4 linked regions of the Homo sapiens genome follow. The protein of the gene in region 2 purifies or fractionates together with the protein of the main gene of each other region. This does not show direct contact. Each region holds a gene or a part of one and is shown on either strand. Other genes may lie near its edges. The genes, in order: TM9SF4, TSPAN11, NRP2 and ITGA6.

Region 1 (7,617 bases), on a different chromosome or scaffold from region 2:
GGTATATTCACATAATGGGATATTATTCAGCACTAAGAAAAAAGAGTTGACCAGGTGCAGGTGCAGTGGCTCACACCTATAATCCCAGCACTTTGGGAGGCTAAGGTGGGAGGATTGTTTGAGCCCAGAAGTTTGAGACCAGCTTGGGCAACAAGTGGGACCCCCCCCCCCACCATATCTACAAAGAGTTAAACATTTAGCTGGTTGTGGTGGCATGCAACTGTGGTCCCAGCTACACAGGAGGCTGAGGCAGGAGAAACACTTGAGCCCAGGAGATTGAGGTTGCAGTGAGCCGTGATTGTACCACTGCACTCCAGCCTGGGCAAGAGAGTGAGACCCTGTCTCAAAAAATAAATAAATAAATAATATTGGCCAGGCACGGTGGTTCACGTCTGCAATCCCAACACTCTGGGAGGCCAAGGCAGGTGGATCACTTGAGCCCAAGAGTTTGAGACCAGCCTGGGCAAGATGGTGAAACCCCATCTCTACAAAAAATACAAATATTGGCCGGGCATGGTGGCAGGTGCCTGCAGTCCTAGCTACTCAGGAGGCTGAGGTAGGAGACCTACCCAGGAGGTCTAGGCTGCAGTGAGCCGTGATTGTGCCACTGCACTCCAGCCTGGGTGATAGAATGAGACCCTGTCTCAAAATAAATAAATAGCGGGGCACAGTGGCTCACGCTTATAATCCCAGCACTTTTGGAGGCTGAGATGGGTGGCTCACTTGAGGCCAGGAATTTGATAACAGCCTGGCCATCATGGCGAAACCCTTTCTCTACTAAAAATACAAAAAGATTAGCCGGGCTTGGTGGCAAACACCTGTAGCCCCAGCTACTGGGGAGGCTGAGGCAAAAGAATCACTTGAACCTGGGAGGCAGAGGTTGCAGTGAGCTGAGATTGCACCACTGCGCTCCAGCCTGGGCGACAGAGTGAAACTCTGTCTCAAAAAGAAAATTCAAAAATAAATAAATAGGCCGGGAGTGGTGGCTCACGCCCGTAATCCCAGCACTTCGGGAAGCCGAAGCGGGTGGATCACCTGAGGTCAACAGTTGCAGACCAGCCTGGCCAACATGGTGAAACCCCGTCTCTACTAAAAACACAAAAATTAGCCTGGCTTGGTGGCGGGCACCTGTAATCCCAGCTACTCGGGAGACTGAGACAGGAGAATCGCTTGAACCTGGAAGGCGGAGGTTGCTGTGAGCCAAGATCATGCCACTGCACTCCAGCCTGGACAACAAAAAGCAAAACTCCATCTCAAATAAATAATAAATAGATAAATAAACCTTTTAAAAAGTTATATATAATATTATATATATTTTATATTTATAAATATATAGTTATATACTTATATTAAACATAGATTATAGTTTACAGCTGCTGTGTTTCTATATCTTAGCTATTATGAATAGTGCTGCAATAAATACGGGGGTGCAGACATTGATTTCATTTCCTTTTGGATATATACTCAGAAGTGGGATTGCTGCATTATATGGTAGTTCCATTTTTAATTTTAATTTTGATGAACATTCATACTGTTTTCCATAGTGACCGTACCAATTTATGCAAGAGTTCCCTTTTCTCCACATCCTTGCCAATACTTATTATGTGTCGTTTTGATAATAATGGTTCTAAGAGGTGTGAAATGATTGCTCATTGTGGTTTCGATTTACATTTCCCTGATGATTAAGGATGTTGAGCACCTTTCCATTTACCTGCTGGCCATTTGTCTGTTTCCTGAGAAATGTCTGCTTAGATCTCTTGCCCATTTTTAAACCAGGTTATTTGGGATTTTTTGCTATTGAGTTATTTAAGCTCCTTATATATTTTGGATATTAACCCCTTATCAGATCGTTTTTGATTTGTAAATATTTTCCTCAGCTCTGGAGGTCACCTTTTTACTCTGTTGTTTCTTTTGCTGTGCAGAGCTTTTTAGTTTGATGCAATCCCACCTGTCTATTTTTGCTTTCGTTTCCTGTGCTTTTGGTGTCATATCCAAAAAATCATTGCCCAAGCCAATGTCAAGTTTTCCCTATGTCTTCATCTAGTAGCTTTACAGTTTCTGGCCCTATAAGTCTTTAATCCATTTTGAATTGATTTTGTATATAGTGTGAGATAAAGGTCCAATTTCATTCTTTTGCATGTGGATATTCATTTTTAGGGATGACGAAAATGTTCTGGAGACGGATGACGGTAATGATTGACAACTTTGTGAATGTAGTTGATTTCACTGATTTGTGCACTTAAAAATGATTAAAATAGTCAATATTTAGTTATGCATATTTTACAACAATGAAAAATATTTAGGCCGGGTCCAGTGGCTCACACCTGTAATCCCAGCCCTTTGGGAGGCCAAGGCAGGCAGATCACTCGAGGTCAGGAGTTCTAGACCAACCTGGCCAACATGGCGAAACCCCATCTCTACTAAAAATACAAAAACTCAGCCGGGCTTGGTGGCATGCACCTGTAATCCCAGCTACTCAGGAGGCTGAGGCAAGATAATTGTTCGAATCCGGGAGTCAGAGGTTACAGTGAACTGAGATTGCGCCACTGCACTCCAGCCTCGGCAACAGAGTGAGACTCCATCTCAAAAAAAATTTTTTTCAGAAAAAAAAGAGAAACTTGCCCATGTTATGGAGCTAATGAGTGGTGGAAATGCGTTCTGAACCCAGGCAGTCTAGTTCTAGGATTCTGGCATATGTCACCAAAAGAGATTGGGATATGAAAGGCCTTTAGGGAAAAATACAAAGCATGAGAAAAAAAATGGAAATACTAAAAAATAATAGGCCATTTATGGAGCTTTGCTCCTTATCAGTTATCTTTCTTCAGGCAGCTAGAAATGGTGGGAAACACTCAGGATCGAAGCTCTAGGAAAACTGGTTCCAAGTCTGGAAACTATGAGACTGCAGCAAATTCCCCCTAGTCTCTCAAGCTTCCTCCTCCTTGGGGTTAATAGCCAATCTGCCAATCTTCAGGATGGTTGTGCAGGTCACAAGAGTTAATGGGTGTGTGTTTCAATGATCTATTACTGAAATGATCTATAATAAACCACCCCACTCTAAAGCTGGGCTTAGCTGGGCAGTTCTTTTGGTCCACATGGTGTTCATGAGGTTATTCATGTAGCTGCATTCAGCTAGTAGCTCAGTGGGGGTTGGAATGTCCAAGATGACTTCAGTTACATATTATAGTGCTTAGCTGTAGTTTCTAGAATGTCTTGAGGAGTTGGCTGGGCCTCCCTCTCTCTCCAGGTGCCTTTCCAGCAGAGTAGCTACACTTCTTTATAACCAAGAAGGTAGAATCAGACGTTTTCAATCCTCTTAAGGCCTAGGCTCAGTACTGGCAGAATCACTTGTAGCACATCCTATTGGTCAAAGCAACCAACATGACCAGCCAGATTCAACAGGAGGTAAAACAGAGTCTATCTCTTGAGGAGAGAAACCGTATGCTCATCATGCAAGGACGGACAGAACTACGTGGCAGCCATCTTTGCAGAAAATCCACCACAGTGGTGCCCATAGGTGGGGATCAGAGTTCAACTGTCCCTTGCCCCCTAGAATTAGATAAAAAGAGTCTAATGAACTGTTAGCATAATGCTAAGTGCTGCAGCACACAAAATGCTCGGCAAGTGCTGATGATTATTATTAATCATTATTATTCTTTTAATAGCTTTTTTAAAACAGTCTAAGATAGCACTGGTACTGTATTCAGTTTAAAGTGATATACATGGGTCAAATGAACTTTGAGTTCTTTCCCAACCTTAATACCATGATTCTTTGAGTCTCTTTTTCACAGATTTGGAAACTGAGGCTTAGGAAGATTGCGTGACTTGTCTGGAGTCACACACTAAGCTAGTGCATGACGTCCACATTCAGAGATATCTCCCTCCACTGAATATGCTGGTTTTCACTCGTTCATTTAAAAAATAATGTATTGGGCATCTACCACAAGCCCAAAGGAGTATACATAAACATATACTGACAATTATTTATTGAATACATCCTATGTAATACTGTGTCACTGAATCCTCATCACAAGCCTATGATGAACCAACCCCCTTCCCATTTCACAGATGGGAATGAGGAAGAGCAAGGTAAAAAACGAACAAACAAAAAAACAGGGTCCACCCTCATGGGGATTACAGTCTACTAAAGAGGATATAGGATAGTCAAACAAATACTTAAAATCAAACAAATACTTAAATATATAATTACAAATTATTCTTGGAGTCGTACTGCTCTTGGAGCCCCAGTGCCCACCCTTTCCCTCAAATCAAGGTCTCAGGTAACCCTGGCAATGGGTCTTCCTGCCAGTAGTAAAGATGGCGCTGAGAGCACGAGCGCACTTTCGCACACCCCCATTACCCACAATGCAGCGGGAATAAGGGAGGCTCAGTTTCTGCCAGGAGCTAATATGGCTTCCTTAGTTACACCGTTCTCTCTCTTCACCTAATCAGCGACCTTACTTTCCCAGACCAGACTGTCGAGCAGGAGCTAAGACTCCTTTTCCCCTCTGCTGACCGCCACTACAGGAGCGGTTGAAGCCAGACGACCACCTTGTGGAGTTAAACTCCGTAACCAGGGAGCACCACTTCCGCTGACGTCATTACGGCGACACGTGGATCCAAGATGGCGACGGCGATGGTGAGTGAAGGAGACTCCGGGAGCGGGAGCTGGAGCGGGGCCCTCCGGGGTATCCCAGGATCTTCCAGCACCCCATGCCTGGCCCTGAGCCACCTCCGGGACCCCTGACTCAGGCCTGAGGGCTACCTCTGACTGGGCTTGTCTTCCCCGAAATCCACCTCCCTGGCCCTGCCCCTGCACTCAGGCTTGTGAAGGCCCCGAGTTTTGGGGGAGGCGCCGTTTCGGAGGAAGACCTCGGCTGCTGCCTTCGCCGGTTCCCATTCTACTTTTGGTCTCCGCCCACTGTGAGCCCCATTTTCCATTTCTCACCTCCCTGTCCTGACCCCTCTGAAGACCCCCTCCCGTTATTCTCATCCTTGCTCCTCCCCGTCACGTCCAGACCCTGCTCTCCCCGCCTCCCCACCATCATAACCAGTCCGCAGATGTGACCTCTCCTCTGACCACCCTCCCAGCCCAAGCGCTGCCTCAGATCCTTTTCAGAGCCCTGTCCTCACTTACACTCATAGCTGTCCCCATCGCGCACCCCCTTGACTGCCGCTACCCCAGAGCTTGCCTTCACCTACCCCACCCCCATCTTTCATCCCTAGAGGCTTCCCTGCCCTTCCTGTCTTCTCTCAGTCAACTCCCTGCCCCTCTCTTAGGGACCTTTTACCCTGTTGGTTCTCAAACTTTACTGTGCATAAGAATCTCGAGGTGTGTAGGGGGAGGCATGCTAAAAATGCAGTTTCCTGAGCAGCCCCACTCCCAGAGATTCTAATTCCATAGGGCTAGGTGATGCCCAGGAATCTGCCCTTTTATAAGCACTCTAGTGATTATATAGTGGAGGTGGTCTGTGAACTACGTTTTGAAAAACACTAATAGCCCCACCTCACTGCTCTCCTTCCCATTCCCCAACATGGCCACACAGCTCGTTAGGGATGAAGGCTCTTTATTATGAAGCTATATGTTGGGATGAAGTCTGTGTGTGGATGAGGGTGGAGGTAAAATAGCCATGCTTGGAAGTTGGGTCAGAGCTTGCGGGCTCCTGGTGCAGAACCTTGGAAGTAAATCTTTGAAGGACTGGCCCTTTTTCTAAAAGTTTAGTTCAAATTCTGCTTGTCAAGAGACCAGAACTAAAATTGAAGTCACTTAGTCCAGAATGATTTCCTGGGTCTTCCTGCATACTGCCTCCTCAGCAGATAATTTCGTCCGGGGAGTGAATGACAAGGAAGACTCAGAGAAAAGGAAATGACATTTGACTTTAGCAAAGGAAGATTCTGGCTTAAATAATTTGGTGTTGGTTTTCTCCAAACAGGGATATATTATTGACTGGTAGCAATTTTCCCTCCTTCTCTTAGCTGACTGAGAACTTACCTTTGTTTAATGAGGGATTCCTTATTTAGAACTTCAGAGGTCAGGTAAAAAGATTTCATGGCCTTACCTGGTTTCTGTGGTTTCAGACTTCAGGCTGAACCACGAGTGGGGCAAATCCTCAAAGTAGTATGTTGAAACCTACATATATGTATATATATTCTGGTACCACATTCAGAACAGAGATAGTGTAAGAACTTAAAAGGAAATCACACCCTCTCTTGCTATAAGGAAAACATTGAGTAAAGTGGTATTTACGGCACTGCACTGGGAAATCCCTGCCTTGTTCAGAGATTTTTAAGAGGTTATAAGCTAGCAATACATATATGTGGTACACATCTATTTAGTCAACAAATATTTGAGTACCAATTCTGTTCCAGGAACTAGGGATGTAGTTGTGAATTACAGGGTCAAGGTCCCTACACTTGTGGAGCCTTTCTGGTTTGAGGAGACAGGCAGTGAACAAGTAAATACGTGAACAAAATAATGTCACCAGTAGATGCTGTGAGGACAGCAAAATGAAGTGATAGTGATTAGGGGTGACTGGGTGACACAACTACTTTGGATTGAGTGGTCAGAAAGAAGTCTTCTCAGAGGAGGTGACTTGAGTTAAAACATAATTAACAAGAAGGAACCAGCCATGCAAAGAATGTTCCAAGCAAAGGAAATGGCAAGTGTAAGGGGCCGATGTGGAAGGGAGCTTGGTGTTTTTGAGGAACACACAGAAGGCTGGAGGGGCCGAAGCATGATGAGGGTTGGGGTAGGAGAGAATGATACAAGATGAAACTGGAGGGAAGCAAGAGCAACTGTTTTGAGAAGCATGCCTGGAAATGGGAAGGACTGCGGTCTACATTTTGTTGTCTGTGGATTGCATTTTGAAATAGTGTTGTATTAGGCTGCTTCCCCTTCCCATCCCCTTCAGGACAGTACTTGAAGGGAGCCAGCTTGTTCTCAGTTGGCACAGAGGCTGTGGAAAGGAGTTTGGATTTTAGTCTAAGCACAGTGGAAGGGACAGTGATTTTTGCCCAGCACAGTGACTCACACCTGTAATCCCAGCACTCTGGGAGACCAAAGCTGGGAGATCGCTTGAGCTCAGGAGTTTGAGACCAGCTTGGACAACATGGCAAACCCCTCTACAAAAAAAATACAAAAAGAAAAAATTAGCTGGGCTTGGTGGTGTGCACCTGTAGTACCAGCTACTTGCGGGGCTGAGGTGGGAGGATCACTTGAACCTCAGTGAGCCCTGATCACTGCACTGCACTCCAGCTTTGGCAACAGAGCGAGACCCTGTCTTAAGAAACAACAACAGGCCGGGAGCAGTGGCTCATGCCTGTAATCTCAGAATTTTGGGAGGCTGAAGCAGGCAAATCACTTGAGGCCAGGAGTTCAACACCAGCCTGGCCAACATGGCGAAACCCTGTCTTCTAAAAATACAAAAATTAGCAGGGTGTGGTGGCACACACCTGTAATCCCAGCTACTCGGGAGGCTGAGGCACAAGAATCGCTTGAACCCGGGAGGCGGAGGCTACAGTGAGCCAAGATCGTGTCACTGCACTGCAGCCTGGGTGACAGAGTGAGACCCTATCTCAAAAAAAAAAAAAAAACAAAAAACAAAACACACCACCACCAAC
Region 2 (7,023 bases):
CCCTCCTTCCCTCCCTCCCTCCCTCCTTCCTTCCTTCCTTCCTTCCTTCCCTCCCTCCCTCCCTCCTTCCTTCCCTCCTTCCTTCCTTCCCTCCTTCCCTCCCTCCCTCCCTCCTTCCTTCCTTCCTTCCTTCCTTCCCTCCCTCCCTCCCTCCTTCCTTCCTTCCTTCCTTACATGTGTAGCCCTCTGCTAGGGATATTAAGATGAACGAAGTTTAATCAAGAGGCTAAAAGAGGAGGCACACAAGGTAACCAATAAAATAAATAGAGTATGAGTGTAACTATGGAAACGTGCAAGACCTGGAGTTGGTACAGAGGACAGAATGATTTGCTGGGAGAGGGGGGCAGGGACAGCTCCAAGGAAGGTTTCCTCTGGGCTCTGAGCTGGGTTTGGAAGATGAACAGGTGATCTCATGTTCCCTCCCAGCTCCACCCCTCAGTAAGACTCATGAGATTTTGCTCTTGTTATAGGGGTAGATGGGACTGGGGAAGACAGCAGAGGAGGTAGTGTTCTGATTTATTTTATCAAGGGCTCTTTAAAGCCAGAAAGCCAAAAACAAGGATGCCTCAAAGTGGGAAATAGCCCTTAGCATAACAAGCCTATCCTTGAAGATTCCATAAACCAAGGCAGCAGGAGCATGGGCAGAGCTGGGGAGAAATGCATGCCTGGCACTCAGAGAAGGTCATTCATGAGGAGGGTGAGCAGCAGCACCTGATGCACGCTTTCATGTGCCCTCCTGGAGAGCTCGGCATTTTGGGCGTGGGACTGGGGTGCCGTCCACCCTGCCTGCATGTGGGTATAGGGCTCAGCTGTGCTCTCTCGGGGCTGCAGTCTAAGGTTCAGCTGACTCTTCTGATGTGGGAATGGGAAGCCATTCTGTAAAAGAAACTGAGTCTTGTTCAGACCTGGTCTCCCAGTCCTCTCCCTGAGCCCCCATGCTGTGTTTGCTCCCCAAACTAGACCCATTCACTTCTCCGTCATAGCAGAAGTCACTCTGGTGGTTACTAAGTCAGGTCTTTCAACCCAGTGTCCTACAAGTGATCCTGGGGCAGGGGCAGGGGCAGTGGCAGTGTCAGGCATGGGTCCCTTGATGGCCCAAGAGCGTGGCATCATTGTAGCAGGTGCACAGTGGGTATTGGTTGAAAGAAAGTATGAGAGTAACCAAGCATCAGTCTGACCTTAAGATACCGAGGGCGCAACCCCAGCCTTTCCAGGAGCCTCTTCTTAATGACCCAGAGAAAAAGCCTATTCCTCTCTGGGACTACTGGGACTTTGTGGACTGCCCCTTTAAAAATCAAAACAGCCATAAAGCAGGAAAGAGAAACACTAGCTGTTGCCCCAGAAGCTCGGCAGACAGAGGCAGGTAGGGGAGCAGATGCCATTTCCACAGCCCTCTACAGAGCCTCATCCACTGAGTCTCACACTCACTGGGGCGGCTCCCGGGTACCAGGCCGTGTGCTGGGCCGCGTTCTGAGGGGAGTGAGGGGACTTTCCCTGCCCCAAGTGTCAAGGGCTGCTGTGAGGTGAGCAGCACCACAGGCATGCAGGAGAGGGATGAACTCACCTGCCCAGGACAGAGCAGGTGCCACACTCAAAATCTCAAAATGGGCCTTAGAGGGTGTGTAGGAGTTCAACGGAAGAGAAAGGGCAGAGAGAACAATGCGTGAAAGGTGGGCAGGAAAAAGAGAGAGCCTCCCTGAGGCCCACAGAGGCTGTGTTGCTTATCCAAATCCACACAGCCAGTAAACAGAAGGCTTGGACTCGGACACCGCGCCACGCCCTGGAGTTCACGCTGTTTACCACTCTGCTAATAGTGCCTGAGTTACTAGGTAACCACACTGTTTTCAAGAAGAAGCAACTACTTAGTTCAAAGTGATTAAAACCCAGGAAAAAAAATACAAAAATTAGCCAGGCGTGGTGGCGCGTGCCTGTAATCCTAGCTACTCAGGAGACTGAGGCAGGAGAATCGCTTGAACCTGGGAGGCGGAGGTTGCAGTGAGCCGAGATCACGCCACTGTGCTCCAGGCTGCGCGACCGAGTGAGACTCTGTCTCAAAAAAAAAAAAAAAAAAAACCGAGGTGTGGGGGGAAGAAAGTACCAGAAGATGATGCCAAAAAGTCAGGTTAAGGCCAGACAGTAAGAGCACCGAGGCCATGCAAAAGAGTTTTTGGGCTTGGTGCCTGGGGCATGGGAGCTGGTGGGGACTTCTCAGCCGGGGGTGCCTTGGGGGATCAGCCTGTGGGCGGAACAGGAGCCAGGAGCCGGGAGCCAACTGAGGTGGGGAACCGAGGTGGACAGTGTGGCGGGGAGATGGAGACAGGTTTGAGGGCAGAGGGGAATTGGCACATGGTTGTCATTGAGAGAAGGAGGAGCCTACAGTGACCCTGTGGTGTCTGTGGGTGGGTGGGTGGGTGGGTGATGGCGCGGCGCCATGTATGAGACTGAGCAGGGAGGAGGAGCACAGATGATGAGTGTGGTTCCCATGGGTGAGCTCCTGTCCAACCCAGAGACTTTTCAGTCCAGTGTGGGGCTTGGCATGTAGCAGGTGGCCAGTAAACACAAAGTCTACTATCACCCTGTACACTTCCCATCACCCTGTGCATTTCCCGCATCCTGAGCCATGGGCTCCTCCTCACTGAGGGTGGAGAACTCCCCTCCGCAGAGGATCCTTCCTTATTGGGATTCAAGTGTTCCTGGCTCCTGCCCCATCCCTTTCCTTCCTTCATTGCAGAAGCCCTATGGTAGCGAGACAAAGAAAAACGCCTACATTTACTTTTATACCCTCTGCCTGCTTTCCTCCAGGTCTGCTGCCTTATTTCTCTCGGCCCCTCAGGCATGTGCAGCCACTCAGGTTAATGCTTCACCCCATCATGTTTCTTTCCTATGAACATAAAGTTCCTAAAATTACACAACAGGGGTGACCTGCTCCGCCCCTCCTGGCCAGCTTGCATCCTTGTCGCCTGGCTTCACCCTCTGCAGGGCTTGCTGGCTAGTCGGCCACAGGCTATGGCTTTGAAAAATGTAGTTATTGCCCAGGCGCGCTGGCTCACACCTGTAATCCCAGCACTTTGGGAGGCCGAGGCAGGTGGATCACCTGAGGTCAAGAGTTCAAGACCAGCCTGACCAACTTGATGAAACCCCCTTTCTACTAAGGATACAAAAATTAGCCAGGCGTGGTGGTGCACACCTGTAATCCCAGCTACTCAGAAGGCTAAGGTGGGAGAATTGCTTGAACCTGGGAGGTGGAGGTTGCAGTGAGCCAAGATCGCACCACTGTACTCCAGACTAGGCGACAGAGCGAGGAAAAAAAAAAAAAAGAAAAATGTAGTTATTACCCTCATGGAAAACCACGCTAGATTCTGTAAAGAGCCAAATACTGTTGAATCAACTGTATGCCAATGGTTGTTGAATAGTTCACTGGGGTCAGATCTCTCCCCACTCCATCAAGTCCCTCTTCCTGCCTCTTCTGCTGCTTTCTGCTGACTTAGGCAGTTTCCAGGCGGCTTGAGTGACAGCCATGAGCCATTAATTCAGAACCATCTTGCCGGAGGTTCTTTGACAGAAGCTTGACTTCTGGTACCAGCAGGGACAGTTTAACCATATGGAAGGGACCTCAGATATGGTCCCATCCAGTGCCCCCAGTTTACAGATGAAGAAACTGAGGCTTAGAGGGGCTGCATATCTGTCCCACAATCATGTGGTTAGTCAGGGACACAGTCAGAACTAGAACCCAGGCTGCTGACTTCTGCCCTCCCGTGACCCCCTCTGGTGACCCATCCAACAGTGAGCAGTGTTAATTTTCCTGTCCAGAGAAAAGCTTGTTTTCTAAAGAGATGACCATGTCCCAAGCAGGTCTTCCAAAGGAATGAAACCCTCTCATTCCTTACAGCTAAGCCTAAGGACTGGGACGGGGTGGAGGCTCTCAAAACATTAGATCCTGGGGAAAAGTAATCAAAGGGGTTCCCAGTAGTTACAGGTTGGGAACCACTGGTCTAATACAACTCCCTGATTTAAGAGATGAAGAAGCTGAGGTCCGGAGAGGTTAAGGGACTATGTTTAGGTCACACCGCTAGTTATGCAAAGTTGGGACCCTCACCCAAGCCTTCCAGGCATGCTGAAGGGGGCAAAAAGAATTCCGTGCAGGATATTTGGCTGCAAACCCTCACATTACACAATTTTATTGACCTAAACTCAGGAAATCCCTCACTGGTCATGGAGGTTGTGTGAGCCGCAGATAACCTATACCCACAGATAATTTTAAAACCTATTCTAGGATTTCATTGAATCTAAGATATCATCAGTGGTAAGACACACTATTGTTTTTTGTACCACTAAGAAAAACTACTGCCAAGTACAATTATAAAATACCATCAGTCATAAGATACATCCCAATTTTAGAGATGTTAAAATGTGAGAGAAAAATGTGTGCATCACGGAATTGAAGAAATCTGCGTGATAGCCACTCCCATTCTGTTTGCTGTAGCCCAGATGGTGTCCTTCCACCTGGCTCTTCCACCTGGTGGAGGTGCCAATGGAGATTAAATGGCACTTTGAAGAAATAGTATCTATTAAAAACACAGAGTAGAGGAGCAGGCCCAGCCCAGTCTGTGGGATCTGGGGACAGAGTCCTGGATTTGCTCTCAGGAGACATGGGGTTGAATCTCAATTCTAAAACTCATGGTGTAATCTTGGGCACAGTCTTATTCTCTTCAAGCCTCAATTTCCTCATCTGCAAAATGCAGAATATGTGCCCTGCCACCCTGCCCCATGCTCACAGAGCTGTTGCAAAGCTCAGAAGAGAAAATGGTAAATACATGTTCGTTTGCTCAACGGATGTCTGTGACTGCCCAGAACAGAGAACTGGGAAATGACAGGGTAGGTTATATGGAGTCTTCCTGGGGCAGATGGGGAGCTCCTTTCAGTGACAAGGCTCAGGGGGCATGGACAGAGCCCAGGGCACTTCTCTAGCTTTGACCACGCCCAGGACTCCTTGAGGAAGCATCCCACACCCATTAGAGAAAAGAGACCCATCCTTAAATGGGGGCAGGGAGACTAGCGGGCAGAAGTCCACATTCCCAGGAGCAGATGGCAGAGACGGTCAGAGGTCCCAGGGGTCCTGTCCCCAAATCCTGGGCAAACACCCACATACTCCCCATCTGGCACCCTGAAGATGCTGTGCATGTGTGCATACACACACATTATGCCCTTCTGGGTCCAACAGTCACAGAAAGAGTTACTTGGCTTCATTGCAAATAGAACCAGCCAAGCCGAGCCATCCCTGCTATATTTCCCAAGTACTCCAGTTTCTAAGGAGGCATCCCCCTATCTGCAAATCAGGAGGGTCCTATCCCTCCCCTCTTCTCAGGACCAAAGGGGAATCAGACAATTAGCAAAAAAGTTTCTCCTCCTGCAGTCCCAGGCGGCTCCAGCCTGTCAAGAACCCTGACTCTTCAATCATGGAGGCAGTGTGACTGAGTGGGCAGGCCCTGGGCTCTGAGTTCTCCTCCTGTCTCTGCCCCTAACCCTGCCCCCAACTACAGGCAGGACCTTGGACAATTTACCTTTCCTCCGTGGGTCTCAGTTTCTTCCTCGTAGAGTAGGGATAAAAAGCCCAGCTGTGCTTCCCCAATGGGCAAACATAAGGATTAAACAAGGGGCGGTGCTCGAACGAGCCCCACCAGGGAAGTGCGGACAGAGGGAAGAAGTGCTCTGAAGGGATAGGAGCCAGGGGTGGCAGGAGTTGGGGAGGTGAAAAGTTGGAGAAGCAAAGGGACTCAGATACGTTGATCATCCCTGAAACTGCAGTCCTCTCCCCTGGCCTCATACGCAATAGGCCACCAGGGTAAAAAGCACCGAATTCACAGTCGGACCTGGATTCAAAACCTGGCTCTGCAGGTTGCTTACCTTGGACAAGTCTCCTAACCTCTCTCAGCCTCGATTTCCTCATCTGTAAAATTGGGTAACCATACCATTCTCGCCTCCTTTGGAGGACTGAATGAGCCAGTGCAAGAGAAGTGCCTGGCACCCTGTGGGCACTGAACGGATAGCAGCTGCCGAGGCCCCCGCCACCCCCTGCTCTAACCCGGTGGTCTCCTGCAGGTCGGGGGAGCAGCCGTCCTGGCTGTGGGCATCTGGACCCTGGTGGAGAAGAGTGGCTACCTCAGCGTCCTGGCCTCCAGCACCTTTGCCGCCTCCGCCTACATCCTCATCTTTGCGGGCGTACTTGTCATGGTGACCGGCTTCCTGGGCTTCGGTGCCATCCTCTGGGAGCGGAAGGGCTGCCTCTCCACGGTCAGTGCCCGCCCTGTGCTCTGCAGGGATGGGGAGCCCTGCACCACCCAGTCAGGTTTCCAGCAAGTGAGAGGGGCCCCAGCCCTGGAGTGGGAGGGGCTGAGGCTGTGGGAGTGCCCGAGAAGGGGTGGCTGCTCCTGGGTCTGGGGTTTGCCACGGTCTCCAGGTTCTTAGGACCCAAGCAAGCAGGCGTCTCAGTAGCTGCAGTGGCAGCTCCTTCTCCGTATCTCCATCTCTGTCTCCTCTCACTCCCCTTCTTCCTCTTCCTCTTCCTCCTTCTATTTCTTCTTCTCCTATTCTTCCTGGTCCTCTCCTTCTCCTTCTCCTATTCTGTACCCTTCCCCTCCTCCTTATCCCGTTTCCTTCTTATTCTCTTTTTCCTCCTACTTCCCCTTCTCCTCTCCCTCTCCCTCTTCCTCCTCCTCTTCCTCTTCCTCTTTCTAGGTTTTTTTATGGCAATTTTCAAAGATATGCAAAAATAAAGAGTGTTTTTCATGAAGCTCCATCTTCCCTTCACCCAGAGTTCAACAATTACCATCTCATAGCCGATCTTGGTTCCGTCCACTCTCTCACCTGCACCCTGCCCACTTCCTAACCCCAGGGTGATTCTGAAACAGTCCCAGACAGCATGTCATCTGTTAGAGTTTCAGTGTGTATCTCTAAACTTAAGGACCCTCTTCTAGAAAACATGATAACATTACCATTATCACACTTTAAAACAATTAACAGTCA
Region 3 (7,023 bases), on a different chromosome or scaffold from region 2:
TTCTTCAAATCCCTCACCCAGATCATCTAAGTCGTTGGCTCAGGGTTTTAACCAAATTTTGCTCACCAACCCGGGATAAGCTGCGTTTTAAGAATTATTTCTGTGAGCTGAGGCTGGATTTTGTTTTATTCAAAGCAACTTCAGCCTGTCACAAGACAGTCTCATAAAATCTGTATCTTGGCTTAAGCTGGGAAGAAATGAGCCAATCCATCAGCCCAGGAATGTGGCTGTTTGACCACTTCCTAAGGCAACTGGGAAGGGATGCAATCTACTCAATTTATGGAGACTGGTGGCAGTGAATGATGCACTCCTGAAGGCACAGCAAATGGAAATCCTTCTGAACTTTTGAAATGATAAAGTTCAAAATCTGAATAAAAGGGCCATCTAGGAGGGAAGGAGAGAGGGAAGCAGAGAGCAGGAGAGGAAGCCAGCATATGAGTTTGGAAATGAATAAAGAATGAAGCAAATTCCCTCTCTTAAAACACCTCCAATGAATTCACTTAGGAGAGAACTGGAAATTGGGTCTGGAAATGGGGCCTTTTGAACATCTCTCCCCTCAATCTAGATTCTAAAAATGAAGCCTCATTTAATCGGTAAAATGTAAGTTTGATGCGATTACCTCTCCTGACCTCGAATCATGCCACCTGTGTTAACCTTATTATTTGTCATCTTATATCATAAACAAATGCAATTCCAATAGGGCAGCCGATATAATGTCATTAGTTTATATTTATGTCCTCTCTTTTCCAGCCCTCATTGCAAATGCAATTTTGATGCCATTGATGAGAGATCTGGGATTACAATTCCTGACCATTTTAGGAGACATTTGGGGAAGGAAACAGAAGAATAATTTTGAGGTCTCTCCAAAAACCAAAGGAGAAAAAAAAGTAATATAATATTGTCTTCATTTATTTTGATTAACTGAAGCTTATGTTGAAACATTAATGGCTCCCCATTGGTTAGCAAGTGAAACCCAAACCTCTTTGCCTAGCAATTTGGGCCTTGAATTGAGCCCAAGCTATTATTTATAATCTTGTTTGCAATTATTTCCCACCATACATTCTAAACTGCAGCTTCTGAGTGTTCCCCAAACCAACCCAGCATCCATTTCTCTACTCACACCTTCCCCTTCCCCTGGTATGCCCTTCCCTGCTCTAAATCCCACCTACTCTCTCACTCCAGGCTGCCTCTGCCCTTTCTCCTCTCCCATACTGGGAGTGGTCTTTCTCCTCTGTGCATCTGAGAGGCTGAAGCTCTTTAGCATCTTCTGAGATGTGTGAGAGTTCTGGAGGGCCTCATCCAGTCTACTGAGCCACCAGCAACTTGAGGTCATGACTCCTTGCTGATCCATCTTTGGCAAGTCTTACAGGATCAAACCAGAACCTTTCCCAAAAGTCAGACTCATCAAGATTTGGTGAATTAACCAATTAAGAAGTGACCAAAGGAACATCAAAGGTATCACTAGATAGGACAGACTCTGAGAGTTCTATCAGAAATTATTCTGCGGCCACAGCTACTGCGCTTCCCTCCCCACCCCCAGCTGTTATTAAGTGCAAATGTTTCTTAGTGGTGAATTGAGAGTTTGAATAACTTGTCTGGGATAATAATACCTAGTCACAAGTAGGTCAAGGTAGAGTTAGTGCGAACTATGTCTCCTAGAACACCCTAAAGCAGATAATAATGATAAATTTCAAAGCACATTCACATTTTATTTTATTTTATTTTATTTTTTGAGACAGAGTCTCACTCTGTCACCCAGGCTAGAGTGCAGTGGCACAATCTCGGCCCACTGCAACCTCCGCCTCCCAAGTTTAAGCGATTTTCCTGCCTTAGCCTCCCAAGTAGCTGGGATTATAGGCGCCCACCACCATACCCAGCTATTGTGTGTGTGTGTGTGTGTGTGTGTGTGTGTGTGTGTGTGTGTGTGTGTGTATTTTTAGCAGGGATGGGGTCTTGCTATGTTGGCCAGGCTGGTCTCGAACTCCTGACCTCAGGTGATCTGCCCACCTCCTCCTCCCAAAGTGCTGGGATTACAGGCATGAGCCACCATGCTCGGCCATTTTATTTTTAATACTAGTAAAATTAATTTATCTCAGGGGTTTTGTCCCCTTCACTCCAACCCCCACACTTCCAAAGGCAACTTTAAATATTGGTTATCTGTACCACCAGGAAGATGCTGACTATTACTTCATCACTAAGCCATTTGTTGGTATTGGATTTTCTTGTGCTTGGTTTCAGCAAACCTCTCTTTACTCAACCCCCTCCTCATTTTCCTTTCTGTAGCCCCTAGAATGCCTTTGGGGAACATCTGTTTTATTTTTTCTCCTGTATCCAAACAATTATTATTAGCATTCGGTCTAGTAATTTGCAATTCCCATTATCTTCTCTGCTGAAAGACTCGCCAGAACTGGTTACTGGTTATCGCAGGATTTGTGGAGGCGGGAGCAGGGTACCACGGCCACGTGCACTCAGCTGGCCGGCAGCCTCGTGCACTCTGTGCTACCGAGAGCTTCTCTTTTGTTATTCCCAGCCCCTCCTTTTTTTCTGGATTAGATAATGACTCCTTTATGAAGACCCAGAGGGAAATGGGATTATTAAGACCCTTGCTGGGTAAAAGCTATTTTGTCTTTATGATGACTTTTTTGAGTTCAGCTGCTGAAGGGCCTTAGTGCCAGAGTAGAAGTTATTACACATTCGGGAGAGCGCCTTAAACACGGTGTTCCCTGCTGAGCACACTCTCAGTGTTGAAGGATGGAAGGGGAGGAAAAGGAAAGGAAATGAGAGATTAAAAAGAAAATAGGAGGTAAGAATACTGAAAACAGAGGAAGAAGGAGGGAAAAAATGCAAGGGAGACATAAATCTAAGATAAGAACTCAGCAGAGAATATTCTCTGAAGAAGAGCATGGCGAGAGATAATATGGTGCTTACAAAACACAGAGGTTTGGTGGTGGAAGAACTGAGAATAAGAATTATTTTTTAAATCTCATAAAAATCAACTTACCACAATGGTTATAGTGTGCTTTCTACGATCACGAGATTCCACTAACCCCACTGAAACAGTTTTAAAGATTCAGTGACTTCAGAATGGGCTTCATATGTGCCAAACAGTATTCTACATAATCTGACATAGCCCAACAACCCTATGAAGTAGGTATTGTTACCAAACACATTTACAGACAAGGAAACCGAGGCACATAGACTAAGTATCTGATCACACAGGATACTGGGATCACAGAGCCAGCAAGTGGCTGAGCTAGATTCTAAACCCAGGCAGTCTAGTTCCCATGTTTCAGAAGCTGGGAAGGCCAGGGATGATCCCCACAAAACTTCTCAGTGGCAAACCTACTTGGTAGCATTTAGGGAAAGACAAATATTTTGCCTGTTTGAAAACCCCCTTTTCTCTGCCTGTGCCAGTACTCTGTCTGTGTGAACAATGAGAGATGTGTTTGAGGCTGGGGTGTGAGTGGGCTGGAAGCACTTAACACCTTCTCCACTCCCTGTACACACAGGCACTCAGCTCCTTGTCATCCTGGCCCTCTTTCCTGTGTTCTGGAAACCCTAGGCATGGGGCCGGGGAGGGCGGGTGATGGATAGGAAGTTCAGGTCTGAAACCATGTATCACAACATCGAAGGGTTTTTTTGTTTTTTTTGTTTTGTTTTGTTTTTTTGTTTTTTGCCAACTCCTATTTCTCTCCTTTCTTCTCAATCCTACTCTTCTCTATCCTAAATGCCACATTGTTATTGTTCTACTGGATAGGAGTAGCATTTTCAGAAATGGGGGATTTATTTTTATAGCACAGCTGGTCTGCCAAAGGTCACATAATTTGGCAATGTTCCCAGTGGTTAAAAATTAATTTCTCCTTATTAATACAACCAAGGTCCCAGAGGATCGGAGCTCAGCCTTATCTAAACTTGACAGCTTCCTAAACCTTTAGAAGATGCTTTCTCCTGGAGGGCCAGCCATGATACAAGGCCACTGTGTCCTGGAATCCTACTCCACTGAATCCTGTTAGGCAATGAAACCATTAAGCCTCTGACCATTTCTCATCAAGGCAGATAAAGCTTTGAAAAATACTGTAGCTCTCCAGGACAAACTTCTGCAGCATCTTCCAGAAATGGGTTAATTAAAAAACAAAAATCAGCAAACAGCCAAGTCCTTACCTGGAAGGAACAGTACAAAGACTAACTTCTGGTGATCAATATACTTATCTGCCACTCAAGGAAGGTATCTCAAAGATTATCCAGTTGCAAGTGATGGTCAGATAATAAAATACCTCAAATATGTTAATAACACTACAAGCCATTGCCCAGATGACACTTTTCAAGTCCTTTCTTGTCAGTTCAAGAAATTAAAAAGATATTCTTCTTTTGCTCTATCTTTTAAGAAAGGAAGATCTCAGCTCAAGTTCCTAAAGTCTTTCCAAACTGGACCTTTGGAGAATATATTTGGAAACCTCTTTACCTGGCTCTTGAATTCTGTCAACTCAGAATTGTCTTACACTCAGGTCATCCTGAGTCAGTTCATTTTCCTGATTGCTTTAGGGAAGACTTGAGTGAAATGAAAAACACCAGGGTCCCCAGAATCATCTGGTCCCTGGTGTCTCTCCTCACTGACCCCAGACCCCTCCCTCACTGTCATTTGTATTCGTGCCTCACTGCATATGAATTGGCATTTGGATTCCTAGCTTTTTCTATGCCTGGAAGATAGGAACTGGCCTTTCTGCTGCAGAACGTGGACTTGATACATTCAACAGCAGGGGATCAGAGCCATTTGGTAGACAGCAGGAGTCCTGTCTGGGTAGCCTGGGTTCCAGTCACTGCAGCCTTCCAATCTTTCATTTTGCCAGTTGAGTGCTCCGTAGCTTAATGTCTGAGGGCTCTATGGGATGACATAAAACTCCAAACCTGATGTGCACTGGCGCATTCACAATTCCACCAGGCACCGCTTGGACGAGTAGGGGCCTGCCCGGGGCCCTTTGGGGAGTGCTCCTCTTGCCACTGTCTTGCACTGTGTGCTCTGCTGGCAACTGGCCACAGCTTCCCTACCTCCAGGAGCTGATCACGGGGGAAAAATGTTTACTGGGTACCCATTTAATGTGGGCATGAGACCAATCCCTAGAGCCCAGAGCAGGCCGTCTGCGTAAAATCTAGGAGTTTACAGTTTACTTGCAAATTATTATGCTCGCCAATGGCCATCTCACATTTTGGGGAGACAGGCTAAAAGAAACACTTCAAACCCTTATCCGGCGCCTAGACCGTCATTGCTTCTCTTTCAGGATTTGTCTGAACCCAGACCTGTCTCCCACAGCCAATTTACACCTCTTATCTGATCATCCAGTCCAGACGGAAGGGTGAATTGACCGAGAATCTGCGCGTGTCCATGGCAATGGCGTTAAAACCCAAGCATAGATCAAAGCTCTCCAGACGAGGAGGGGAGGGGTAGATGGTTATGGGGTCTGGGTTCTTTTGGCCCCAAGCGATGTGTCCCGGAGGTGGGGACATTAGGCCTGGGAGTTGCCACCATTTGAAGAAACCCATTGTCAGGACTTGAATGATTTTCTGAGCAAAACCCAGTCCCCCCGCAGATCATGATTAACTCTAGCAAAGGGGACGTTCGTAGTGGGCGCTGATCGGGAATGGCTAGCGCCAGGGGGCTCTCCTCTCTGTCTGAAACCGAAAGAACAGGAAGTGGAGGGAGGGGAGCCGAGCAGGGAGCACACGCCAATAAACCTGAGCGTGGATCTCCTATCTTTTAGAAGAAATTCAGCCGGAGCCGCAGAAGCCGCAACGCATATGGGCAAGATCCCCTAAAACTTGGTCTGGAAAGCTGATTCCCGAAGGTTCCCCAACCCAGATGATTCCCAGAGGGGCGACAAGTCTATTCCAAATCCCTCCCCCACCTCCAAACACTAGGGCTACCGGCGCCCGCCACCCAGCCGCTGGACGCCTGCGACCCGGTGGGAAAGACCCCCGGCACAGCCAGCCCGAGTCGAAGGGCGGGGGCAGCCCTTCAATCAGAGCGCGCCTTGCCTCCATTAACTTGTGTTGATATTAAAAAGAAATCAATCAGTGAAAATGAAGCATCGGCCGTGAACATTTCTTTTTCTCACGTGGAAAAGCAAAGAGCGAGGCGGCTGGGGAGGGGAGGCGGGAACTCGCCGGCGGCTGCAGGCAGAGGCTTCTCCAGAGACCAGCGCTGCAGCCGAGACCTAACTTTCCGGCATAGGGCAGCGTTGAAGAAATGCCGCAGGCTTTTCCCTGGGGGTGTCCTTAGGAGGAGGAGGAGGAGGAGGGCACAAGCATGGAGTAGTTGGAGGCGGCCAACTTCGCGGAGGCTTCAGCCTCGGTTTTGCTTTCGCTGGGAATATTTTTGCTTAATAGAATGTTTATGGATCGCTGGGCTCTGTTTCTGCTGCGTAGCCCAAACAAATCGATGCGGCGTTAGAGAAGGCGCTGGGGGGCGGGGAAGGGGAGGGAGGGCTAGGAGGAGAGCTGAGGGGCTATCACGTCCCCACCACGTGGATGGCCGCACGCCGCGTGCTCTTCACCTGTTCCTGCGCACCGGCGGGCGCTGGGCGCGCGGCGCTTCTAGAGGCTGTGCAAGTTGCGCGCATTCCTGGGGCTCAAGCTGGTTCCTTCCCGCCTCTCTCCGCCCTCCTCTCCGAAATCCCACCCCAGTTTCCTCTCACCTAGTTGGGCCAGCGCTTGGATTCCCAAGCCAGCCGGCCTCGGCCTCCCGCCACTCAAAGCCGTCTCTCTAGGGGTCGCGGCGAGCCTGCCGCGCAGAGCGGAGCGCAGGGGACTGGCGGGGGCGCCCGGGGCAGGGAGGGAGGCAGGCTAGCGGCTGCACTGCGGTCTGGCGAGGCGGCGCAGTGAGGAGAGGGGCAGCCTGGTGCGCGTCGCCCATGCGGCCTCCCAGCCACGCGCCAGCCCAAGGTGCCGCGCGCCGCGACCGCCGTGTTATTTGCTCAGTTGCTCCCCCGCGCGCACCTTCTGCCCCATCTTGCTCCTTCCCAGAATTGG
Region 4 (7,332 bases), on a different chromosome or scaffold from region 2:
ATAAAAGCCGTATCTTGAAAGACTGTACACAGGTGGGAGCTCTGGTTTTGATGCAACATTCTAAGTGCTTTAGATAACATCAACTCTACTAATTCTTAAGAGAAAGCAACTACTGAGGGGTAGATGACATGTTGTTATTTCCGGTTTACAGCTGGGAAAACGGAGACATGGAGAGATTAAATGGCCTTGTGGCTAGCGTGGAGCAGAGGCAGGATCCGTAATAAGGAACTTGGGTTCCAGAGACCATGTGCTACCCACTCTCATGGATGGCCTCACATTAAAGGGCTCCAGGAAATATGTAAAACTGTTGGGATAATGTAACCACAGAAAGAGAATAAAGAGATGTTTTCATTAACTAGTTTCTTGAGACGGAGTCTTGCTCTGTTGCCCAGGCTGGAGTGCAGTGGTGCAATCTCGGCTCAATGCAACCTCTGCCTCCCGGGTTCAAGCGATTCTCCTGCCTCAGCATCCTGAGTAGCTGAAATTACGGCACCTCCACCACGCCCGGCTCATTTTTGTATTTTTAGTAGAGATGGGGTTTCGCCAAGTTGGCCAGGCTGGTCTCGAACTCCTGACTTCAGGTGATCTGCCTGCCTCAGCCTCCAGAAGTGCTGGGATTACAGGCATGAGCCACCACGTCCGGCCTAATAACTAGTTTTTATGTTGCATGAAAAAAGCAAATATATTCTCTGCTGTTAGTGATGATGAAGTCAATATAACAGTGAACATGATAACAAAATGATTAAAGTAGGTCTCAGGGAATGGAAAATATATTAGGTATGACATGGATTCTTCAGACTTCTCCATAAATGACCAATATTCTAAAATTATCTTGAAAGCTCTTCTACAGAGGGTGGGATATAGTACAAATAAATAATTTTATTTTGAAAAGTGTACTGGTAAAACATAAGAATTCAAAAGCTCTCACCTGAGCAAATGCCTCTATGCATAGCTTTCACTGCCTTTTAATTAAAAATGTTCAGTTTATAGAAGTTTCTTCTGTGATGTGTTATTTCGTTTTCTAATCGGCCCTTTTTTTTTTTTTTTAGACACGGTTCTGCCAGTTAACTGGATTTGTAGGGCCCTTCTTGCACTGTGCATGTCTTGTTTTCATAGGCATGTGTGCTAGCACACACACACACATGCCCCATGCCCTATATACTCAGCACACCTTTATCACCAAGCTATCTCTCTCCCTTTGGTTCCAGACAAGTATCTTCCTGTCCCAGATTTTGTTTTCCCCATTAAAACTGTGTACTCCCTCCCCAGGTCTTTAATTTTTAGGGCTCTGAATTCTTTTATTCCTTTGGCCCCAGAGATTGATGTGTCCTCAGTGGATCCAGAATGACCTCTAAACCTCCTTTTTGTAAGACACTTTTGTAAAACACCCAACTCTGTTTTACAATGGAAATAACAACTGAGTCACAAAACTTGATTCTTTTTTTTTTTTGAGTCAGAGTCTTGCTCTGTCACCTAGTCTGGAGTGCAGTGGTGCAATCTTGGCTTACTGCAACCTCTGTCTCCCCATTTCAAGTGAGTCTTGAGCCTTGGCCTCCCGAGTAGCTGGGATTAGAGGTGCCCATCATTAGACCCAGCTAATTTTTGTATTTTTAGTAGAGACGGGGTGGTGGGGTTGGGTGGGGGGGAGTCTCACCATTTTGGCCAGGCTGGTCTCGAACCCTTGACCTCAGGTGATCCTCCCACCTCGCCTCCCAAAGTGCCAGGATTATAGGCGTGAGCCACTGTGCCTGGCCAAAACTTGATGGTTATAGTCAGAAGGAGCTGACAATCTTCAAATAAATTATGTCAAGAGTGAGGGTTTGACTCAACTTCAAGTATCTTCGGCATCTATGTTGAGAGTGAGAGTTTGACTCAACTTCAAGTAGGTAGGAGACAGGTGGCAGGTAGGAGCACTGAGCTAATAAGTTTTCCATTTGCGATGGGCACTTGACATATTCCAGAACAAGACTCCCAGCCTTGTTTTTCTTTATCTGAACCTCTTCCCACACAAGCATAATTTGCTTCAGTAGTGCTATACATGTAGTTGTGATATTTAAATTTAATATTATTTAGAATTTCAATTTGAGCACAATCTGTGTTTGGGATAAAGTAAATAACTCTGGCCATTCATACATCATCCACTAAACACATCTTGGGAAGACAGGAATCAATGGTCCACAGAATTACTCTTAGAAGCAAGGGGTGATATTCAGAATAGTTAACAGCTGGTGTGACATGGGGATATCCAAGCAGAGGGAGCCCTTGCTGCATCAGGGCTTAAGGGCTTAAACTTTCATTTGCCAGGTTGTGAGGAAGTTGCTTAGTCCTAGGAAAATGGGCAGGGCAGGGATGGTTGCCTGTGAGGAACTAAGGGCAGCAGCTTTTATCAACCAATTCAGAATATTTCAGTAACCATTACAGCCAAATCACCAGCTCCTGGCTGAGTACACTCTGCAGTGAGGTTCATTATACTATGCCTATAATAGTCTGGACCCCATCTCTCTGGAATAGTACATATTTTACACGAAGGGAAAAGGCTAACTTGCAACTTATTTGCATGAAAAATCACGTTGCAAGTACTTCTTAGTTTACTAGATTGTCTCCAATAGTTTCTCAACCTTATCAAGATATATTTGTTAAAACTGTGTGCTCTCCAAAATCATCTACTGAATTTAAACCACTGCACCCCACTTTGGACTATAATTGACTGGAGTTACTGATTGGAAAGGAAGTGGTACACACCCCTAATATACTGACGGACTTACTCTGACAGCTGCTACCACCTGTGGGGACCCTTGATGATGTTCACGCAGCTTTTCTGAGTGGCACATGCTGTTCTCTTGAATACTCCTTGAGGTGAAGAAGAGGCCACCCCTACCCCTATGCACACACAGCTCCTGCTCTTTCCTGGGGCTGCACCCTGCTTGTATTTCCAATGCAGGGATGTCAGATTCCAAAGAGGGCTCCCCAAGGCATTCCAGAAGGCTTCAGGCCAGCACGTCCCAACCTTTTCATGCCATGGGACCCCTTTGGCAGGCTGCTGAAAACCATGGGGTTCTTCTCAGAATAAGGGTTTTAAATACATAAAAGAAACCACAAGAGGTTACAAAAAAAGCCAATAATATTGAAATGTAGCTAACAAAATGTTTTTAAAAATTTGTGCTAGAGCAATATATATGCTTCATTATTGACATATAATATCTGGCTGATTGTCTAATAACTACTGTTATTTGAGATACTTGCAACAACTGTGATGTGATGTAAAAACCTATGGTTTCTAGTGATTACTAAGTCATAAATACTTATCCTACTGCTACTGTAGTTTGTTGTCTACGTTCATAATGGCAAAACGTGCTAAATGTCAGAGGTTGGTGAAAATTAAGACGTAAATTTTTTCTCATCCAAGTTCACAGTACTCTTGAATTAATTACCTCTCCTCGGGTTAAGAACCCCTGCAGGATAAGGTTGCCCCTAGGGCCAACACCTCACTGGAGCCCCGCCTCATGTCCTGGAGGCAGGAGCCTTCATGCCACCTACACAGAACTCGGAGCTGTCTCTTGGCCCAGCAGTTCTCCCCACAACTAGTTCTGAAAGTCCGGGGCTAGGAAAGAACGGCATCGTCGCCTGAGCTCCTGGCGCCACTTTAAACAACCCATCCTTGACTTGCGTGACTTCTTCCACAAGCTCTCCTGGTCACCTGGGCAAAATCCTAGGTGATCTGGGGACAAGGCGGAACTTCGGTTTTCTGATCTGCAAAAAGAAACACCTACCTCATAGGACTGTTAGGATGAATTGAGGTAATGGCTGGGTTGTGTACATTATACAGCACTATCAAGGTGTGCGCTGTGATCATTTTTGAGGGTTGTTAGGTGTTTGAGGACCCAGAACAGTCTACACAGCTGTAGTCCCCAAGTGTTGGGCACGCCTTAAGCGCTCCATAAACACCTGTAGAAATGAATGAATGACGTATGCATCTGCACGTGGGCCCACATCTGCAAGAACAGGCTGCTCAGGCCATGAGGCCCGGTGCATCACCTGCACTTCTCTTTATAACGGGTAGTAAAGTCTCCCTCGCTCTGTGCTACTCGGCAACCACAATTCTGTCCACAGAGGGCGGCGCAGTGGGGCTGCTTCGCCGCGAGCTCGCCTCCGGGGCTCCCACGTCGTGGCTTCCGGGCAGGTACCGGGCAGCTGGAGACGCCAGAGCCGGCGGGTAAGGTGCGGGCGGTGCGCCGGGCCGCGGGCGCGCAAGGAGGGGCGAGAGGGTGGGGAGGGGCGGGGCCGGCGTCCTCGTCACTTGATAAAACGCCTGCGAGTCTCCAGAGAACAACGGGCTCATTCAGCGGTCGCGAGCTGCCCGCGAGGGGGAGCGGCCGGACGGAGAGCGCGACCCGTCCCGGGGGTGGGGCCGGGCGCAGCGGCGAGAGGAGGCGAAGGTGGCTGCGGTAGCAGCAGCGCGGCAGCCTCGGACCCAGCCCGGAGCGCAGGGCGGCCGCTGCAGGTCCCCGCTCCCCTCCCCGTGCGTCCGCCCATGGCCGCCGCCGGGCAGCTGTGCTTGCTCTACCTGTCGGCGGGGCTCCTGTCCCGGCTCGGCGCAGCCTTCAACTTGGACACTCGGGAGGACAACGTGATCCGGAAATATGGAGACCCCGGGAGCCTCTTCGGCTTCTCGCTGGCCATGCACTGGCAACTGCAGCCCGAGGACAAGCGGCTGTGAGTTCCCAGACCCTTCCCACCCCCACTGGGGCGCCGGCCTGCGCGCGAGTTGAGGCGAGGGCGCGCCCTGTTCCCGCCGGCCCCGGGGAGTAGTTGGCCCGTGGGTCGCGCCCGGGCCGGCCGAGGCGCACCCAGCGCCCAGCGCGCTCGGCTCCCCGCCCTGACCCGCCCCGCGCGGCGCCTCCCTCCATTCAGCTCGGGAAGGAGGAGAACCCGAGGGCTAGGCTGGGCCCCGGGAGAGTTTACTTTTTTTTCTGTTTTAAACAAAGTGCTTTCCGCCGGTTCTTCCCTCCGGGCGTGTTTGCTGGGACCCCGGCAGGTGGCACGCTTTGCTGAGCTTCACGTGTGTGTTTGGGGCTGGGGTGGCGTTCAGGGTCACCGCAGCGCTGCTGTGGGTTTGCAGGGAGCGTAGTTCCAGGATGGTCTAGGCCTTTCCCAAACTCACGGTGCACCCCGTCTCCCCCGCAGACTGGCGCGCCCCGCACAAGTTGGAAAGCCACTTTCCATGTGTCCTGCATGACTTTCTCAGCAAGGCGGGGGCGCTCCTTAGGAGATACTTTTACATGCCTTTGAAAAAAAAAAAAAAAAAGATGGGGGTGGGGGCGGGAATTAACCAAACACCTGTTCGCTGGACTAGATCAGCTGAGAAAACAAGTCTGAGTGATGTGCCCAGCCCCCAAAGTACTCGGCCGCACCCGAGACCCGCTCGGCTCCTGCGTTGGGCGGGCACAGCCAAGGGGTTAAAGCAAAATGTCCGATCTGAGCCTGGACTTTGCAAACAAGGTTTGTAAGGGACAACCCCCCACCGTAGCGGTAAACCTCCCAGGAGAAAGAGGAGACCGGCACTACTGGCCTCTCCTTTTATTTCTTAAACAGTGTTTGGTTCCCACATGATCGGCTATTTAAGCCGGAGAGGGTATTTTGGCGCTTAGTCGCCTTAATCGCTATGGGGTTGCATTCTTCATCTGTGCTACTGAAAAATAGGCTGTAGCAACAAAAGGTCTCCCCTCCCCACCCAGGCCTTGAGTTGAACTAAGGACCTTCCAGGACCAACAGACCGGAGAAAGCAAAGTGCAGCCACAGTGAAGAGATTTTGTGTTTAGGAGAGGCGAATGGGATTTTAGAACTGGAGGAAACCTCTTGATTTCAGCGGTTAACAACTTTGGAATTCGTGAATGTTGCAGCCCCTGAATTTTAGTCAGTTTTTTTTTTTTTCTGATAACACCTGCTAGGTGAAGCACAGAAATTAGCTGGGGGTGGGGAGGCTCTAGGAGGGTGGTCTGAGGCTATATGCCTGGCCAGCTGCTTATACTCTGCTTTCTCTCAGAAATAATTGTTGTTAAGCTGTAAATCTGAAATGAAAGGTTCCTGTTAACTCAGTTAATAGATGACGTTTATTGTCTCGGAATACTTGGTGTGTAGAATTTGAGCTTGTTAGTGCAGAAATGATTGTGGGCCAGCAGAGGGAATTCATTCTCCTGGGCATTCTCTCTCTGCACCAGAGCCCCACTGAAACCGGTGGCTTCCTTGAAATACTTGTTCAAGCAAAAAGTGTGAAGGGAAAGTACTGGGACAAGAAATATCCTGGCAGTGGAGATTTGCGAAACGTGACTTTGCCAGGAATCTGTGTCGTGAAGGTTAGCAGCATGCTTGCTAAAACTTGTTACTGCTGCTGGGCTTCTCTGGTATTAGAGCTGAGGCAACTCCTCCCGAGGTAAGGATAAGCCTGCAATGGGGTCTGATGCCTTCTAGGAAAGCTCTTCTTAGCAGCTGACAGAGGGGAGAGGCCCCGTATAAGGAGACTGTATGTTTCCTAGAGTCCAAAGGCAGTGACCACACTTTAAAGAGGCTGTGGTTTATGTCACGTGCTGCCCACCTCCATGCTTTTGTAAAGCTTTATTCCAGCTTCAGGAATAGCATTGGTCTTCCCAGGAGAACCAGCACACACAGGCCATAGCACAGGTCAGTTGTCAACCTTTGACAGTAAAGAATGTGGGTGTAAATGGCAGAGCCAGTAAGACTGAGAAAACTTCTGGACCAGCTTCCTAAACTCTATGGAAAAACTCAGTGGGGGTCTTTCAGGGACCTGGTGGGAGAGAGACCTAAGCTGAGATTCCTTCTCGGCCTTTTATTAGCAGCTGTTAATTTACTTTGAGCTTTAATTTCTTTATCTGTAAAATGGAGATATTACTGCTTACTGGGGTTATTATGAGGATTAAGAGATAATATGCAAAGTGCTTAATGCCTGTCTGGCATGGGTACTTGCTGACTAAATGGTAGCTGTTAATGATCATTTAAAAAGCAGTAATTGTGTACCTACTGTGTGTCAGGTACCTTACAAGGTGTCTTAAACATTCTGTGATTCTAAGATTGCCTGAGAGTAAAGCCAAAGGTGGTTGTTTTTGGGTAATGATATTTTAAACTCAGTCATATTTATGAAACCCATGTTCAAAGCAACTTAACTTTAATAGGTCTTAATTAGACTTATAACAAAAGTGAGTTTAATGAACAGAGGACTTTGAGGAAGGAGAAGTAAAATATCAGATGCATGGGACGGTCAGATAAAAGCACGATCATAGAAGACCTATCATAAATGTTTGTAGTTCAAATTTTCTA

What was found.
Region 1: the proteins of TSPAN11 (region 2) and TM9SF4 purify together in Homo sapiens (affinity purification with mass spectrometry; 2 studies listed by BioGRID and IntAct, with this or other methods). This does not show direct contact.
Region 3: the proteins of TSPAN11 (region 2) and NRP2 purify together in Homo sapiens (affinity purification with mass spectrometry; 2 studies listed by BioGRID and IntAct, with this or other methods). This does not show direct contact.
Region 4: the proteins of TSPAN11 (region 2) and ITGA6 purify together in Homo sapiens (affinity purification with mass spectrometry; 2 studies listed by BioGRID and IntAct, with this or other methods). This does not show direct contact.

The regions. Positions count from the first base shown.
Region 1 is NC_000020.11:32,105,120-32,112,736, forward strand, and holds the start of TM9SF4 (transmembrane 9 superfamily member 4 isoform 1 precursor), read left to right. Parts: upstream 1-4,594; 5' UTR 4,595-4,621; coding exon 4,622-4,636; exon of another isoform or gene 4,637-4,920; intron 4,921-7,617. UniProt on the Homo sapiens protein: Associates with proteins harboring glycine-rich transmembrane domains and ensures their efficient localization to the cell surface.
Region 2 is NC_000012.12:30,957,727-30,964,749, forward strand, and holds part of TSPAN11 (tetraspanin-11), read left to right. Parts: intron 1-6,099; coding exon 6,100-6,291; intron 6,292-7,023.
Region 3 is NC_000002.12:205,685,489-205,692,511, reverse strand, and holds part of NRP2 (neuropilin-2 isoform 2 precursor), read right to left. Parts: intron 1-7,023.
Region 4 is NC_000002.12:172,423,258-172,430,589, forward strand, and holds the start of ITGA6 (integrin alpha-6 isoform b preproprotein), read left to right. Parts: upstream 1-4,328; 5' UTR 4,329-4,531; coding exon 4,532-4,713; intron 4,714-7,332. UniProt on the Homo sapiens protein: Integrin alpha-6/beta-1 (ITGA6:ITGB1) is a receptor for laminin on platelets. Integrin alpha-6/beta-1 (ITGA6:ITGB1) is present in oocytes and is involved in sperm-egg fusion.